2 separate regions of the Homo sapiens genome follow, and region 1 is linked to region 2. Evidence: fine-mapped expression QTL. Tissue or cell type: whole blood. Region 2 holds a variant in brackets; the other region holds the start of a gene. All regions are shown on one strand. Distances are from middle to middle.

Region 1 (8,000 bases), 28 kb before region 2:
GATGTAAACTGAATAAAACATAAAGAATGGTTTAGTTCTATTTGGTGATCACAAAAATATATTAGTTACTAAGGAAAATTAATAATAGCCTGTGCTATGTGTCAGGTCCCAATGTGAAGTGCTTTACAAACATCTCACTTATTTCCACCAACTACCAGGTGTTACCCCTGTTTTACTGAAAGCAAACCAAAGTTAAGGAAAGGTGCATAACTTGCCATCATTATAACTGTCAATACTGATGAAGAGTATGTTATCGTCAGTCTTATGCTCCTTAAGGATGTAGGGGTACTTCTATATCTTTTGCGGGCAATGATGGATGGAATATTGGGCTGAACCAATTAGTATGTTAATTTTAAACTTCTGCTTGAAGAAAGGATCTATGGTAGGTATTAGTAGCGAGAGATGAGAGGTATCCTTTATATCTTTTAATTTCATATTCTTTTCCTATGAGAGAAGGGCAAGAATCTAGGAAATTAATTCAGTTAACTAATATTTATTGGACATTTTCTATTTTCCAGGGATTACGAAATATCCCTCTTCTACATTTATCATTTAGACTTCAATTGTCTTCACTGAAAACTGAGGGGCTTAGTTTTAAAGTTCTTTTTTTTTCCTTTAAATATCTAAGAGCCTATAAATCCACTCAATCTTCATTTTCTCCCAACTAGACCTTAAAGTGGCATGCAGAATTATAGTGAGACACAGGTGGGCTGTGTATGGTGGTTCACAGCCACAGTTGGTGGTGGGGAGAGTAAAGGTTATGATTTCCTTTTTTCTCTACTTCTTCCTATCCATATTTGCATAAAAACATGGTCACACATTCTTACTTGATTACTTGTAGAAAGACACATTCCAAAGATACTAACACCTTTAGGGTAAAGGACATCTCTTCCTTCACAATTTATTGCAGAATGCTAGGTTTACAGGAGAAGCTTGAGGAATGCTTAAGCAATGTTCAGTTGATATGAAAAGTTCTATTAGCTTAACTTCTAGTCTATTTGCTTCAGTTGCTGCCAAACATCGACAGCCTTTCAAACCAGGATCCTTCCTTATTTAGAGAAGTTTGCAGGAGGGCTTCCATTTCCATACACCGGATTAAATGCTTTTCCTTCTCACCTGTTTAGGCTAATGGCCTTCAGTGTTATGCAGAGTAAAGACATTCTGTAGCCTCCATTCAGAAGAACCATTTTGTTTGAAAAAGAAAAGTCTAATTCAAGCAGAGTCATTAAATGAAAATGAGAAACTTTAGAAAAATTAAGAAAAAAAAGTTGAGTATTCTCTAGGGAACACAGATTGTTTTGCTGTTTAGACCGAGATAAGTTCTTCAATGCCTGCTCTCAAGCTGATTTAGTCTATGAAAATGATTTTCTTATGGATGGAGGCTTTCCTATAACTTTACTTTGCTGTTGATATATTTCTTTTTTATACTAAATCTTTTTTGGTGGGAACTGTTTAGACCTATGACCTTAGAACACTGGCCTGACTTGGAGAAAAATGAACTTGAAAAGAATCCTGTGATATATGGAGCACACACCTTTACATATAAAAATTAAACTACTGGCCCATAATCAGTATAGCTCGCCTCATGATAGATTATTCTCAGGCTAAATTTATAACAGGCACTCAACAAAAGTATTCATCGCTTATCCCCTAACATTATCTAGTAGCTATAGGAGCCGGTGACCTAGTAAATAAAAAAAAAAAATCTTTAGGGGTGGAATGTAACTATATGCAGTAGCGGTAATTCTGCTCCATTTGTAAGGAGGGTGAAATGCGATATGGTCATGTACCCTCTTGGTACACAAGTTCCATAGGCTATAGAAAAACAAGTCCATACCCTCTGATATCTGCATTCCTTATTCTTGTTATAGCTTACAAATCTTCTTTAGACACTTAACAGTGATAATTCTCCCAGGGAAACTAAGGAAGCACATGAGTCATGTTTCTTAACTTTAATGTTGTATAATCTGAAAATTATCTATAGATGCTTTTTTTTTCCATTGGTGCTAGAAAATTCCGCCTAGGCTCAATCGATATCCATTTCTAAACTTCTGCAAGAAAGCTTTAACTGCTTTGACATGCCAAAAATCCAGGTGTGAATTAAACAACGAATGCTTTACCTCGTTTTCACCACTAGTTCTACCAGTCAGAATCTTTTCAAATCATCCTCAGCCAGTGCCTGTCATCCACGGCCTGGTAACACACCCTTTCACCTCCTCATACCCCGTGTCTTCGCTTTTCCAGTCCTTTGGCTGCCCTCCGGTTTCTTCCCTCACATACCTGTCTGACTAGTTCCTAGAAGCCTGGCAGAAATTGTTCTCCGATTTTAATCTGGCTGCCACAAATGAAAGACCTTGGAGTCCAAATACTCCTCTCTCAAAGCAAAATCTAAATGGATATAATTTATAAGCAAAGATAACACTTCTGTTTTTTTCTCTATAAACAAACCATGCATGGGCTTTTAAAGGAGAAAAGGAAGAGTGGATTGACAGAGAAAATAACTGTTTAGGATAGAGGTTAGGAAAAGACTGAGAGCAAGAGAAAAGGCATCAATCCCAGTTGTTAATCCACGAGGCATCCCCCAGACCCTTCTGTAAAGGTTAATGAAGGCAGTAAGGCAGTTATCTTTGTTTCGTGCACTGATGCAATCCAAGCTTCCACGGTTTAGCACATAGTAGACGCTCTATAAATATTTATTGAATGTTGAACGATGAGAGAGTAATTAAAAACCGGTAAGTTGATATCATAAATACAACGACAACGGCTCCCCTATCAAATGTTTAGTGTTCCCAGAGACAGCCCCATTGTTCTACATCTCGTTATACTCTGGCCTTTTCCCGTTTTTGTCATTCGAACTCATATACATATTGAAATCGAAGCACACACAAATCCCTGAAATGACAAACTTAAATGCTATCCAAAGGAAGTTACATTAGGTTGCTGCTTTGAAAATGAAGTCAACTCCTAATGGGTTAGCTGTTTCTGCAGCATTCTTTCCCGCCTTCTTGGAGTTGAGGTGAGGGATTAAACAATCAACCTTCTCTCTCCTTTCTCTCATTCTCAAAGTTTTTCTCGCCTTTTCCTTCCTTTCCTTTGCTTCATTTCTTTTCCCAGTCTATCGTTTCTCTAGGGGTCGTTGCTTTGCTCTTTCTCCCTCTCTGTCTGTTGGTCCCTTTGATCCTTTCTTTCTACCCCTTATTCCCAGCAGCTCCAGAAAATACCTTCTTTCTCCCCGTCTCACGTCACTTCCCTCCCTTCTCCCATCTCCCTCTCCTCTCCGAGAGGTGCGTTCCCCACTAGAGGCCAGCACTTTCTTAGTTTCGTCCTTCCAACCGGCGAGCAGAACTCGGAGAGAAAGAAGGGGGTAAAAAAGAGGAGAAAGAGAGCAAGAGAGGAAAAAACCCCTGGGCCTGGAGCGCAGAGGCCCGGGAGCTGCGTCGCCATGGCAACGGGCGCCGGCAGGAAACGAGGGACGCGCGGGAGGGAGGGGGCGGAGGGCGCCGAGGGGAGGCGGAGGGACGGCGGGGGGGGGGTCCGGCTGCCCCGGAAGCACCTCCCCGCAGCCCCCTCCTCCAGCCCGGCCCGCAGCCCCTGGCCTGCGGCCCCCACCTTCTCGGCCGGGCAGGAAGTGACAGGCCCGGAGCGAGCCCCGGAGGCCTGGCTGAGCCGCGGCCGGGCCCGCACCCGGAGCGGCGGGAGGGGCGGGGAGCCGCGGTCGCGCCGGGCGCCTCCCACCCCGCCCTCGGCGCCCCCGCCCCTCCAGGAAGGGGAGGAGGCGAGGGGAGCCCGCCGCGGAGGCCGAGCGAGCCCCCAGCCCAGCCTGGCGACTGGGGACCCCGGCACATGAGGTGGACGCCCCCGGGGAAGACTTGGGTGCACAGCCAGGCGAGAAGGTAACCGGGCGACCGAGGGCCGGGGAGGGGCAGGACCTCTGGGGGCTTGGCTGCGCGGGGATGTATCCTCAGCCACCTCCATCTGTGTAACGCCCCAGGTACCTCCCCCAGTTGCTTTCCCTGCCTACCTCCGGCGCTGAGCTCTGCGGTCCTTCGGCTCTGCCTGTCCGAGTCTTCTGGCTATTCATTCTGCTGCGCTTCATGCTGTCTGTCCGTCACCCTAGCTGCCTCTGACTGCTCATTTTCTTATTCATTTTTCCTTCTCTGACTTTGGTCCTTCCAGCCGAGCATGCTGTCTAGTTATCTCCCTGCTTTCGTGGTCCGCTGGGTTCCTCAGCCTCCAGTTCCTTGACTTCTGCCTCTGCTCTCTGTATGCACATGTCCCAGCTCACTTGGGTCAGTTCATTCCCGGCGCACCACTGGATCCACCCCCTTCCCCCAGTGTATTTGATTTCTCTTTGAAACATCATTTTCATCAAGGTTCTATATAGAACGAGGACCCTTGGGCGTCTACTCCCTGTTCTCTTGATTATTACCGTGTCTTTGGCACAGTCTTCCCTGAACCACCCCCTTCTCCCGTCCCCCTTCCTATGTCCCATCCTTTCTGCATGATAAGAGTTTCGTGCTTAGGGATATTGACTTTCTCCAACTCTCGGCCCAATGCTAAGTCCACCTCAATGTCCCATTCTAACTCCCTTCGGTAGGTCTGTGCGCCTACCCAACCCCATGTATGCCCACATGCTACCTTTTAAGATGACCATGGCTTAGCTACTCTGGGGGCATCTGTGGATCAGCTTCTCACTGTCTTCCAGTTTAATTTGGAAAATTTTGATACCTGGTGCTGCCCAAACTGTTTGTTGTCTCCATTTTTTATATTTAATCTTGTAGTCATAATGTTGATCACAAATGAATACATTTATGTGCCCGGGATCCAGGAATCCTGGTTTTGGTGGCAGTTTCCCTTGATTTTATTGAGACTTTTAAGTTGGTCCCTTTACATTTTTATTTCTAGTTCACAATCCAAAAAAAATTATTAATCAGAATTCAGGTTTGGGAAGACGAGGGGTCATACGGTTTGTATTTTCACATGTGAATGTAGGAATTATGTTCTCTATACCTAGCAAAGGGGTCTCGTGTCTCTGAGTCCAGTGAACTAAATCCAGTAATCTATAAAACTGTGCCGTGCTGCCTCTAATCCTTACCCACTTTTTTTCTTCACATGCTGATAATGAGGATTCATGGGTCTGTATCTGTTTAGTGCTTTGATATTTTGGCAAAAGATGTGGGGAGAAGGTAGACTAGTTGAAGCTGATATGATTTTTCCTATGTACTTTTTGGGTAATATACATGTTTGCAGTGACATTTGCTAGTCCTAAATGAAACTAAAGACTGGGGGGGGATAATAGTGTGATTGGATGATACTGGGAATGAGATAATAAGAAATATCCTCAGCTTTATTGCCAAGGCCAAGCAGTTTGATACTTTGCTTGTTTGTTTGTTTTGGATGCAATCCCTAAGACCAGTCCATTCACCCTAATGAAACTGTTGACAACACTTAGCAGAAATTCTGGTTTGATGTTTATATTCTTAAGCCAGATAATATTTTGGTGACCTGATATTTCTAGTGGCCCAGTGCCTCAGAAGTAGAGAAAATAGTGTGTAGCTTAACAAAAGAGAAAAACAAAAAAAAAGAATGAGTAAAAACCTTATTGTCATTTAGTGCTGCTTTGGAAGAATATTTCTTCTTCTCATCTCCTGCCTCTTTGCTTGGTTCTTAGCAGTGTTTTCATATGTGTCTTTTTGCAAATGTAAGTGTAGTCCCCAGTGGGTAAATTCTGACATGTTAGTAGATTATAAAGTTGCATCTTACTTTCTTGAAGATTTTCATTGTGTGTATTTCTATGTTTCATACTCCGGAGTCATTTCTTAAAATGATATATTACATTCAGTATGAAGCCTCCTTTGCAGTGAGGAAACAGGTATAAGGAAGGAAAGCAACATGCCTGAGGTGTTATTAGTAGCCTGAGCTGGAACCAGGCAGCTATTTGGGCTATGTGGGCTGTAGGTGAGCTCTTCTGCTTCCTAGTTTTATGACCTTCCATGACCCACTGAATGTGTCTGTATCTTAAGGTCCTCCTCCATAAAATGAGGATAACTACTCACTATCATAGTGAATGACACTGCCTTAATTACAGTTTGGTTTGAAGAAGCATGTGTTAGTCCAAAGACTTGATACTTACTAGGGCAACTTCTTTAACCTCAGAAAACCTTATGTCTCAAATTGTAGAATGAGGATAACAGTGTTGACTTTACAGCACTACTATGAGAGAGATACAGCATAGGTGAAGTGCCTAGCCCAGTGAAAGGAGGCAACTAGTGGCTCTCCAGTATATGGTGACTCATTTGGATGATAACGATGCAGATGGAGACAAAAATGAGATAACCAAAACTTTTAAGTGGAAAGATTTTAAACTGTTAAAAAATGCTATGGGAATGTAAGGTAACTTTGGTATTGTAAGGTGCCATCTCACATTCTGGCCGTTTTATTTAATGACAGCCATGAGGGAATACGTAAAGGTTGTTTCTTTTGAGACTGCATAGCTTCAAAAGATGGTAGTATTGGGAAGACATGGTTGCAAGAGTGTATTGAAGATTTGGGAGTTTTAAGATGAGAAATCATGGCTTATGGAAGAGGAGGAAGATTCTTAGATACTTATGGATTTCCTGTGTTTTTGAATAATAACATGAGATAACAGCTTGGGATCAAGATATAAATTTTAACCTTTTACTGCTTCCCTCTAGGTCTTGAGTCAGACAGAGCACCAGCCTTGGGGACCCTGGACCACTATCATGGAGACTGAGAGCGAGCAGAACTCCAATTCCACCAATGGGAGTTCTAGCTCAGGGGGCAGCTCTCGGCCCCAGATAGCTCAAATGTCACTTTATGAACGACAAGCAGTGCAGGTGAGACTCAGCTCTGAGGGGCCATGGTCTGTGAGTCTTGGCTTGTGGTAGGCAGTGATGCTGGAAAATAATTGTACTCAGTTCTTTTTCAACAAACTGGGGAGAGTTGGGTTAGATGATGACTAAGCTGTCTTCCAGCTCTGAGAATCTTAGGAGTTTACAAATGTTTAGGCAAGCAAACAGTGAAATCTGGTCTTTCAAATAAGGATTTAAAAAACACATTCAGTCCATCTAGCTAGATTCTAACTAACCCTTTCTCATACTGGATTGCCAGGTTTTTAATCTTTGGCCATTCTTGTAAATCCCCTTGAGTAATAGAAGTATCATGGAACTCTTTAGAGATTTATTTTTAAACAAACAGCAAATTCCATGTTTTTATTAATTCTGTTAGGAAATGAGGTCTTTTAGCAAATATTTTGGTTACTAGAATAACTATACATATCATAAAAATAGTTCTAATTATTAAAGAATAAGAATACAGTAAAGTCCAGTTAGCACTAAAACCAAACTACTATTTTCATTTCATAAATCTGTATTAGCATACTGATATGTAAAAATGCCAATTAGTTGAATTCGTTGAAAATTTTACGTGAAGGAATCTTTAGAAGCCACTATTTATTTTTTCATTATTTCCAACCCATTAGGGCTGTATTACCTTTACTGTATACCTAAAATATACTTTTACATTTTCTTCTTTTTTTTTTGAGACAAGGTCTAGCTCTGTTGCCCTGGCTGGAGTGCAGTGGTGCGATCAGTGCTCACTGCAGCCTCAGACTCCCAGTTCTCCTATCTTATCCTCCTGACTAGCTGGGACTATAGGCACACTCCACCATGCCCAGCTTTTTTTCTTATTTTCTTTACATTAATCGGCATTTTGTTTATTTTCACCCGATCTAGTCTTTGCTATGGCATGTATTTCCAGCTCCCAATTGGAGAAACAAGTTTGTATAAATTGCACTGCTTTACTTTTCTTAACATCCTATGGAGAATAAACCATAGAATTACATTCACGCGTCACTTAATGACAGGAACGCGTTTTGAGAAATGTATTGTTGGACGATTTTGTAATTGCGTGACTGTCATAGAGCGCACTTACACACACCCAGATTATGTAGCCTACTCCGTACCTAGGTTATACAGTAT
Region 2 (8,222 bases):
CATGAATTTTGGCACACTGCAACCTCCGCATCCTGGGCTCAAATGATCCTCCTGCCTCAGCTTCCCGAGTAGCTGGGACTATAGGCATGCATCACCATGCCCAGCTGATTTTTGTATGTTTTGTAGAGTCAAGGTTTTGCCATGTTGCCCAGGATGGTCTTGAACTCCTGAGCTCAAGTGATCTGCCTGCCCTGGTCTCCTAAAATGCTGGGATTATAGGCGTGAGCCTCTGCACCTGGCCATTTTTTAAATACCAGTTGCTTTCTAATTTCATTTTGCTTTTAAAGCTTGCCATCTGACTTCATATTACTGAATTTAGGACAGGTACTTTGGAATTAATCATTGCTAGACCTCAGTTTCATTTAGCTTCCCTTCTCCTATCATCTGGCATTACCTACATGTTCTCACCATTTCTTCTAGGCTGCCAAGAGATTGCAGAGGAATTTCGCTCACAGGAGATTGATGGACAGGCCCTTTTATTACTTAAAGAAGAACATCTTATGAGTGCCATGAACATCAAGCTGGGCCCTGCCCTCAAGATCTGCGCCAAGATAAATGTCCTCAAGGAGACCTAAGGTGGCCCTCTTGCACAAACCAGCCTAAGGCAGACACTCTCCACTGTCCAGGTTATAACCTGGTACCAGCAGACTTTGCAGGGAAGAAAGAGTTGTTCCAATCATGTAACCTTCTGTAGGGGATTACTGAGACAGGGAAGAGAAGTGCAAGAATTGGTTGCTGGTGCTACATGGCGGCAGCTTTGACATTTTCTCTGGGTTCTACTTTATTTTTTAAAATCTTTACAGTTCTCACCATTTCACGTACCTTAATCCAATCTTTATAAAAGAGGCAGTCTAGAGAACTAGGACTGCTCAGCCTTATCCTGGAGTGGAGCATTTAGCCCAGGTCTTAATTCTCCAAGAGGAGGAATACATAGTATGGTAAGGCAAGGAACTGGGTGGAATGTCAGGTTGCCTGCCCAATGGGAGAGGTAGGGTTTTTCTAGCTTGTGTGACAGAAGTAGCAAAATCTGGTCCTCCCCCCTCCCAGTGTAGCTGTGGCTCAGAGTTTTTTCTTTTTGTTGTCACTTACTCCCTTGTGATTGAATTTTTTCTCCTGCATCCATGGCAGGATCCCCAGCCAGTATAGAGACTTGGTTGGCATCTTCTGCTGCAGGGACTAAAAGTATTTGACTGGGGCACATGTGGCTGTTGTCATTCTTTCTGCATCCCACTGTTCCCCTCCAATTTATGTTATTTTCTACCCTGTTTTTCAGTTCCATCTCTGCTCTGTCCTATAGCTTTATAAAACCAGAGTGTGTGGGGCTGAGGTCAGGAGTATAAGTACCTGCCTTAGGCACTATTCCTTATATAACAAAAATATTAAATATTTTTTTCCTCAGTAAAAGGATGAAAATTGGTTTCAGTTGTCTTACTCTATTCCAGTCTTTGCCCACTTTCACACAAATGACAAGGCCAATATGTTTTGTTTGTTTTTTAATCATTAAGAGTTTTTGTACAAAAGGTGATGGTTTTTTTTCTTCATTTTAAAACACCAGGGTGTGGGGGAGGGATGCAAACAAATAACAAAAAAGATGCTTTTGTAACATTATTTTCCCTGTTTAGAAAGAAAAAAATCACTCCAATAGTATTGAAAAGTCCAAAGATGAAATAGTTTCATTTTCTTTTCCTAAGGCTTATAAAAGGCCCCCTGCCTGTTGATTCCATCCCTCTTTTGTGTCCAGTGGAGCCATGTTACTCTTCAGTGGCCCAGGGGTTCACTATTAAAGAAAGATCAGTCCAGGTTTCTGGGCACATGGCCTAAACAGGAAGATGGAAGCATCAGAGGATTAAAAACCTTTCCCCACAGAAATGTGGGCAAGAAGACACTTCCCTGAGCCAGCAGAAGGGACAGGTGCAGCAGCATTCCACACCCAGCGCAGAGGACAGCAGAGCCCTCGATGTCCCACTTCTGCTTCCGTTCCCTTTCTAGAAGATTGAAAAAAAGGTCAAAACCACATGCCTGTGGAGAAAGTGCGACATGTTTAGAAATACTGGTAGGGAACCAGGAGTAAGAAAAGCTTTACCAGCTTTTACTACAAATGGATGAAAGACATCAGGATCCCACCACCGCAAGGTAAAGTGACTTCCCTTTTCTGGAACCCCTGTGGCACAGGAGTACCAATTTTCCTTTCCAACGAACTGGATTTCTGGATAGGCATTTTGGCTGTATGTGGACAGATAAGACCACAGTCCTTAGCCCAATCCCAGCTATACAGTCACCCCAATTTCCACAAATGATGTGATGGTACCGTATAATCCTGTAATTGGGAAATTTCACATTTTTCCTGTCCTAATCTCAGAGGTGGGAGAAGCAAGTCTAGAACATCTCCAGGCTCAGACTAAACGAGAGTACTTGGACTGCAACCAAGTAATCACTGCAAAGTAGTTCCAAGCAGCAAGAAATACCAGATTCTCATGGAGGCTACTATAGGGTACAGAATAACAACATGAAAGCAATCAACCCTGTATAAATAATGTTTCTTGGCATTTTTTTTTTAATTAAAGAAATCCAGTGTCTCAAAAACTTGTGAAAATGTGTTTAAAAAACAAACGGCCAGTGAGCCTGCTACACCATTTTGCCCATATGCCTATTGTAACTTCTGATGTCAAGAGACAATGCAAAAGCCTCTGTTTTCACAGGCCCTATTATATTAACTCTGACTTACAACTGTACCTCTCTAGAGAAAAAACAGAAAATAAGGAACAAAGGGAAGGCAGTTTTACTAGTGAGAAGATGCAAATCAAAAGCAAACTGGAAAGCAAGAGCAATAGTAAGGGTGAGATGAGGGACTGGAGTTGAGACTGCTTGAGAAATCTGGCTGTGTAGCTTTGGTTTGGGGGACTGAGGAAGAGGCTGGACATATAAAGTGCAATCTACATTGGTAATAAATGGTCATCCCTTTCTTCTGACTCCTCCCCCAGCTGGTCATCCCCCACACCACGATATGCTGCAGGCACATTTCGAGGTTTAGAACGGCAGACAAAGTCACAGCCATCCTGTAGGGGGAAAAAAAAGAAGGAAATAATTCGCAGCATCTAACTTTAGGATATGAGAAAGTGTACTTATGGTCTAGGAATGTGGCAAGAATTGGTTTTCTATAGGGATAATGAGAAAACCTAAAAGATCTGACAATCAGCCTAAATTCAATTTGGGGCAACAGGAGAAAAAGTTTCTTCTTATTAGGCCTCACCTTCTTCCCACCCAGGCCCTCTTAAAAGCTAAATCAGATTTAGAAGAGCCCATCTGGTCAACAGTGTTGCTCTTTCAGCAATGTCTTACCAAGGCCAGAAATGGATGCTGTGCCACTTACTACTCTGTACTAGGGCAACTGTCTTGTTTGCTGGGACTTTTGTGGTTTTAGCACTCAATGTCCTGTGTCCCAGGAACCCCCTCAGTGTGAACAAACGAGGATGGTTGGTCACCCAACCTTGTTTGCAGGCT[A/G]CAAATTCAACCAGCTGCCCTGTTACTTACTGCTACCAGGTTGCCAAGATCCTGCCAGAAGGCTAAGTGGGGAAACTGCTCCATTCCTTTGGCTCCCACTACCAGTCGCTGGTATAGGAACCCCCCAACAACATAAACAGCAACCAGTGATGCAAACCTGTAGAGAGAGAAAGACATCTATACTTAAGAACTGGGAAATAGTAAAAACTCAGATAGGATAACCTCTGCATTTATTGTCAGCTGTTTCCTAAGATACATTCCCTGAAAAGGAAAAATGAGTAGTGATACTAAATGAAAAAGGGGGCTGGTAACTCTTAGAAAACCAGTTAGAGTGCTGTCAGTCCAAGAGAAGCAAAGGCCCAGACAAAATGTGACAGCGTGTGATTCTATGGCCAAGAATAATCACCATTAAGTATATGATTCCATTTCTCTAGAAGTTCTCATAATCTAATGAAATAATATAAAAATTGCCTAGTCCTGCAGTAGGGGAAAAAAGCACCTCCAAATGCAAATCTATACCGGCAACTAAACATTAAATCTCATTTTTCAAAAACTTGCAGTCAGAATTTTTTTTTTTTTTTTTTTTAGACGGAGTTTTGCCCTTGTTGCCCAGGCTGGAGTGCAGTGGTGCGACCTCAGCTCACTGCAACCTCCACCTCCCAGGTTCAAGTGATTCTACTGCCTCAGCCTCCCAAGTAGCTGGGATTACAGGCATGTGCCACTGTGCTGGCTAATTTTGTATTTTTAGTAGAGACGGAGTTTCATCATGTTGGTCAGGTTGGTCTCAAACTCCTGACCTTAGGTGATCCATCTGCCTTGGCTTCCCAAAGTGCTGGGATTACAGGCGTGAGCCCTGTGTCCTGGCAGAATTATTTTATAGCCAGAGGATTTAAAAAGTTATCCCCATCAATTACAGCATAATGTACACATACAATTTGTGCTTATGTACCACCATATAGTTACTGACCTTAAAAACAAAAGGAAGGAAGGTCTGTTCTGATAAAGGAAGGCATACTCACGTGACAAGTAAGATGGAACCCACACTGAGGTGGGAGATCTCTGGTGAACAGGCCAGGCTGCTATCCATCTCAAAGAGGTAGAAACAATCTTGGACTTTGCCACGCTCCTCAGACACAGGGTTAAAATTGTCCTGATGATGAGATGGCATAACACATTCAGGTGGTTAAGTGTTTTGACTCCTGTCCAACAAAATAAAAAACCCAAAAAACATCTGCTCCTTCCTGGTTCAGCAGCCTATTTTCCATGGAAGATGCGTGTCTGACACAGAGAGAAACTGAGCTCCTAGTTTTCTAATGTCCATCCCAACGTATCGTGTCCCCTCTGGATATTCTCCCCAACCTCAGGTCAGTCCTTTCAGTCTCCTCCCTCGGCTTATACAACACAGGGTGCCTCACCGCTAGGGTGTGTCGATTGCAGGAGATCATCACCACTGCACGACGCTGCTCCTTGCCACAGTGGTTGTCATATTCATCACCCCCTTTATAGATCAGCATGATCCAATTACCTGAGGAGGGACAAGGAAAATGGAGCTATGGGGTGGGGGAAAAGCAGAGGCAGATCTGGGTGGTATGGCAGAGTGGAATTGCGTAATTCATTGCAATTGGTTATAACTAAACAACCCTCATCAGTACGAACTTGGTATACCAGAAATGCCAAGCTAAACTTGTTTGCTTACAAAGACTTGTGTTCCCTTAAGACAAGAATCAGATATTCATTTAAGAATAATCTTAATTTTTAACATTAAAGGTAGGCAACTGACAATGCAAAACCAATTATGATCCATACCTTAACACTGATTCATTTTCTGAATACCTTCTAAAAGCAAAAAAAGAGGTTCCATACAATTGCTGAGCAGCAGGGGTAAGCCCATCTAAGATTTCAACTTAGCCCCAGATAAATTCAGAGTGGATATCTAAGATTGGAATGCATATCTCTTCTTTAGTATTTACTGTGTTCAGTTCTTTTGCAAAATATCATTTGATTCAGTAATTGTGAGGTGAATAAGGTAAAGATTCTGCTCCTAGTTTTGCATATGAGAAAACAAGGTCAAAAGGTGATACGACTTTCCAGTCACAGGATTAGGAAACAGGAGGAGAACCTGGTCACATGATCCCCAGCCCCAAACCCTTTTGTTACTTTTTTATTGTATTATTTACCAGGAGTAAATAGCTACCTTGTATAACTTATTTATCTGTATGGGAGGGAATTGGACCATAGGTGCTTACATGGTCCTCTCCAGCAATATGACTTTTAAGAAATATCACCACCATAGCACAAAAATCAGTGGGTAAAGTTTTGCAGACTGAGTAGTTTGCAAAAAAAAGTTTGAGCTCTTAAAATTTAACTGGTAAACTTTGATTAATTTGATGAAAAGTGGTGGTGGTGGTTGGTATTTGTAAGTCTAGTGTGAAACTCATTAAAAGTATTTGGGTGAATAAAAGGACTCTAGGCTACAGAATTCTGGCTAGAGTTGGCTGGGCGCGGTGGTTCATGCCTGTAATCCCAGCACCTTGGGAGGCCAAGGTGGGCAGATCACGAGGTCAAAGATCAAGACCATCATGGCCAACATTGTGAAACCCTGTCTCTGCTAAAAATACAAAAATTAGCTGGGCATGATGGCACACACCTGTAGTCCCAGCTACTCAGGAGGCTGAGGCTGGAGAATCGCTTGAACCCAAGAGGCTGAGGTTGCAGTGAGCCGAGATTGTGCCACTGCACTCCAGGCTGGGTGACAGAGAGAGACTCCGTCTCAAAACAAAACAAAACAATTCTGGCTAGAGTCTTCATTTTGCATAAGTTTTTCACTGATTTTAATGCACAACTGTCCTGAGCTGTGGCTTACAGAGGAGCTGTGGAATTAGGCATCCTGTGGTATATTACAGTCTCAGGTGTGCCGAACCACACGTATGATATGCTGAAGACACTAGAAACGGCCAAGACATACAGGATTGTCAGAGGGATTGACTTGGGATCAGTTAGTCAATCGATGGTAGGAAGGGGAGTTTTCTTACTTCCGTTGAAGATGTGAGTCTCGTTGAGTCTCCCTACCACTGTCTCCTTCCCATTACTTTTGTTGATTTGCACCAGGCCTGCCCCAGAAGTGTGGTTGCCAGCTTCCCGGCACACCCTGAAGATGTAGATGTATGTGTCTGAACCCTGGCCCACAGTGCTCTCAAAGCTGTAAAGAGAAGTGGGAAGAAAGAAGAGGAGAGTTACTAGCTATCAGCCTCAGGAATAACAGCATCCCTTTCCTTAATTAAAACAAAACAAACAACATGCTCGATTTATTTATTTGAGGTCATGGCTGAGTGAATATTTGTTTAATTTTAAGATATTCATAACCTTGACAGACCATCCTTATTGCTGATGATGAATTATTAAAACACACTTGAGCTATCTTGATAGCTCAATATTCTAGTTATTTTTAGAATGCCTGTTAGTAACCATGTTCCAATGAATAAGGGCCCATGTTCATCGGATAGTCTCGTTTCTTAGGGACCAACTTCAGATTTATATATCTGAAGGTTCCTGACACTTATAATGACATGTGTCGGCCTAAATATGTTTATCTGATATTTCTAAAGTCCTATTATATGTAGGTGTCAAATAATCCTTAAATTTCTACAAGCTGGTCTCTTGGATCCAGTCTTGGAAATAGCTACACTTCTGTGAAAGATGAGAAAACTGCACACAGCAACTAAAAACTGGGCTGAGAATTTGCTCTATGTCATAAAAGAGAGCACATTATGAAATAAAATCAGTAAGAAGAAAAGACTTTAACATAAATATTTTCTCAAGCTCTTTAAGGTTCTTCTCATTTACCTTTTATTAAACAGTGGTTTCAGCCTCTTCACTAGAGCCAACTCTTTCTCTGACTCTTTACCCTTTTCTCCTACCAAGTCGCAAGTTTTTTCTTCTGTCTGCCAGGATTCTCTCACTGCCACAGCCAGGAGTAGTAGTAGCAGTCCAGTCCTCCAGCAGCTGTAGAAAGGGAACATCCTTTGGGAGAGAGTGTGTGTTGGGGAGGGCAGGTAGGATCAGGAGAGAGAGGAAAGAGATAAAGCGTATGAATGTGTAATAAATCGATGGTATTTTAATTATCCAGAAAGTACAAGATTCTCTGGCATATGCAACACATAGTACATTTTAATATCTCTGTAACAAGAGCATCTGCAGCAGAAAATTCATTTATATGTAACTTGTAGTCTAATGTATAGGTGAGTCTTTCAGAACAAACTACAAAGTTGGGAAGAGGGAAATGAAAGAACTTAAAAAAGAATGATGACAGCTTGGGTGGAGCCATCCTTGCCTCTTTACTGTTTGATGGCTTGATGTAGTCTTCTGAAACCTCTTTGGCCTCTACAGGTCACAAATCTCAAGGGTTTCTAGACTTCCCATAAGTACAGTTGTCTTTTACACTACAAATCAATGACAACAAATTGGGGATCACCAAGCCACTTTACAATTGAGTAAATTCAATGCACCTGCTGCTTGTACTGCTCTAGGAATGAAAACACACAGACAGCTCTCTTTCCCAAACTTACTAGACTGGTGCAAAGGTCATTGTGGTTTTGGCAAAAAAACCCCACCAAAACCTAACATTTTCTTTTCTCTTATCCATCTTCATACCCAGGACAGACTGACTTACCCTTGCAAAACACTTTACTCTGGTATCTGTTAATGATCCCTCAGGCCATTGC

The links. PIP is the estimated chance that this variant, and not a neighbour inherited with it, causes the effect.
Region 1: PHC1 starts here. The variant in region 2 is fine-mapped to the expression of PHC1 in whole blood (TOPMed, PIP above 0.99). The same link has a PIP of 0.9 or more in T cells, blood mononuclear cells, fibroblasts, lung and skeletal muscle.

What each region holds. Positions count from the first base shown.
Region 1 is chr12:8,910,935-8,918,934 of GRCh38, forward strand. It overlaps PHC1 (polyhomeotic homolog 1), which reads left to right and starts at 3,575. Exons shown (of 15, transcript NM_004426.3): 1 at 3,575-3,893; 2 at 6,696-6,857. The coding sequence starts at 6,744. RefSeq lists an enhancer at 708-1,260 and silencers at 3,457-3,566, 3,617-3,666, 3,737-4,026.
Region 2 is chr12:8,938,885-8,947,106 of GRCh38, forward strand. PHC1 (polyhomeotic homolog 1) reads left to right here. Exons shown (of 15, transcript NM_004426.3): 15 at 421-2,583. The coding sequence ends at 575. M6PR (mannose-6-phosphate receptor, cation dependent) reads right to left here. Exons shown (of 7, transcript NM_002355.4): 2 at 7,345-7,521; 3 at 6,534-6,700; 4 at 4,917-5,026; 5 at 4,521-4,651; 6 at 3,532-3,658; 7 at 1,477-3,056. The coding sequence starts at 7,520. The coding sequence ends at 2,934. Among named protein-coding and RNA genes, the nearest start is that of M6PR, 6.6 kb to the right of the region's middle. The variant A/G (reference allele first, on the strand shown) is at 3,502.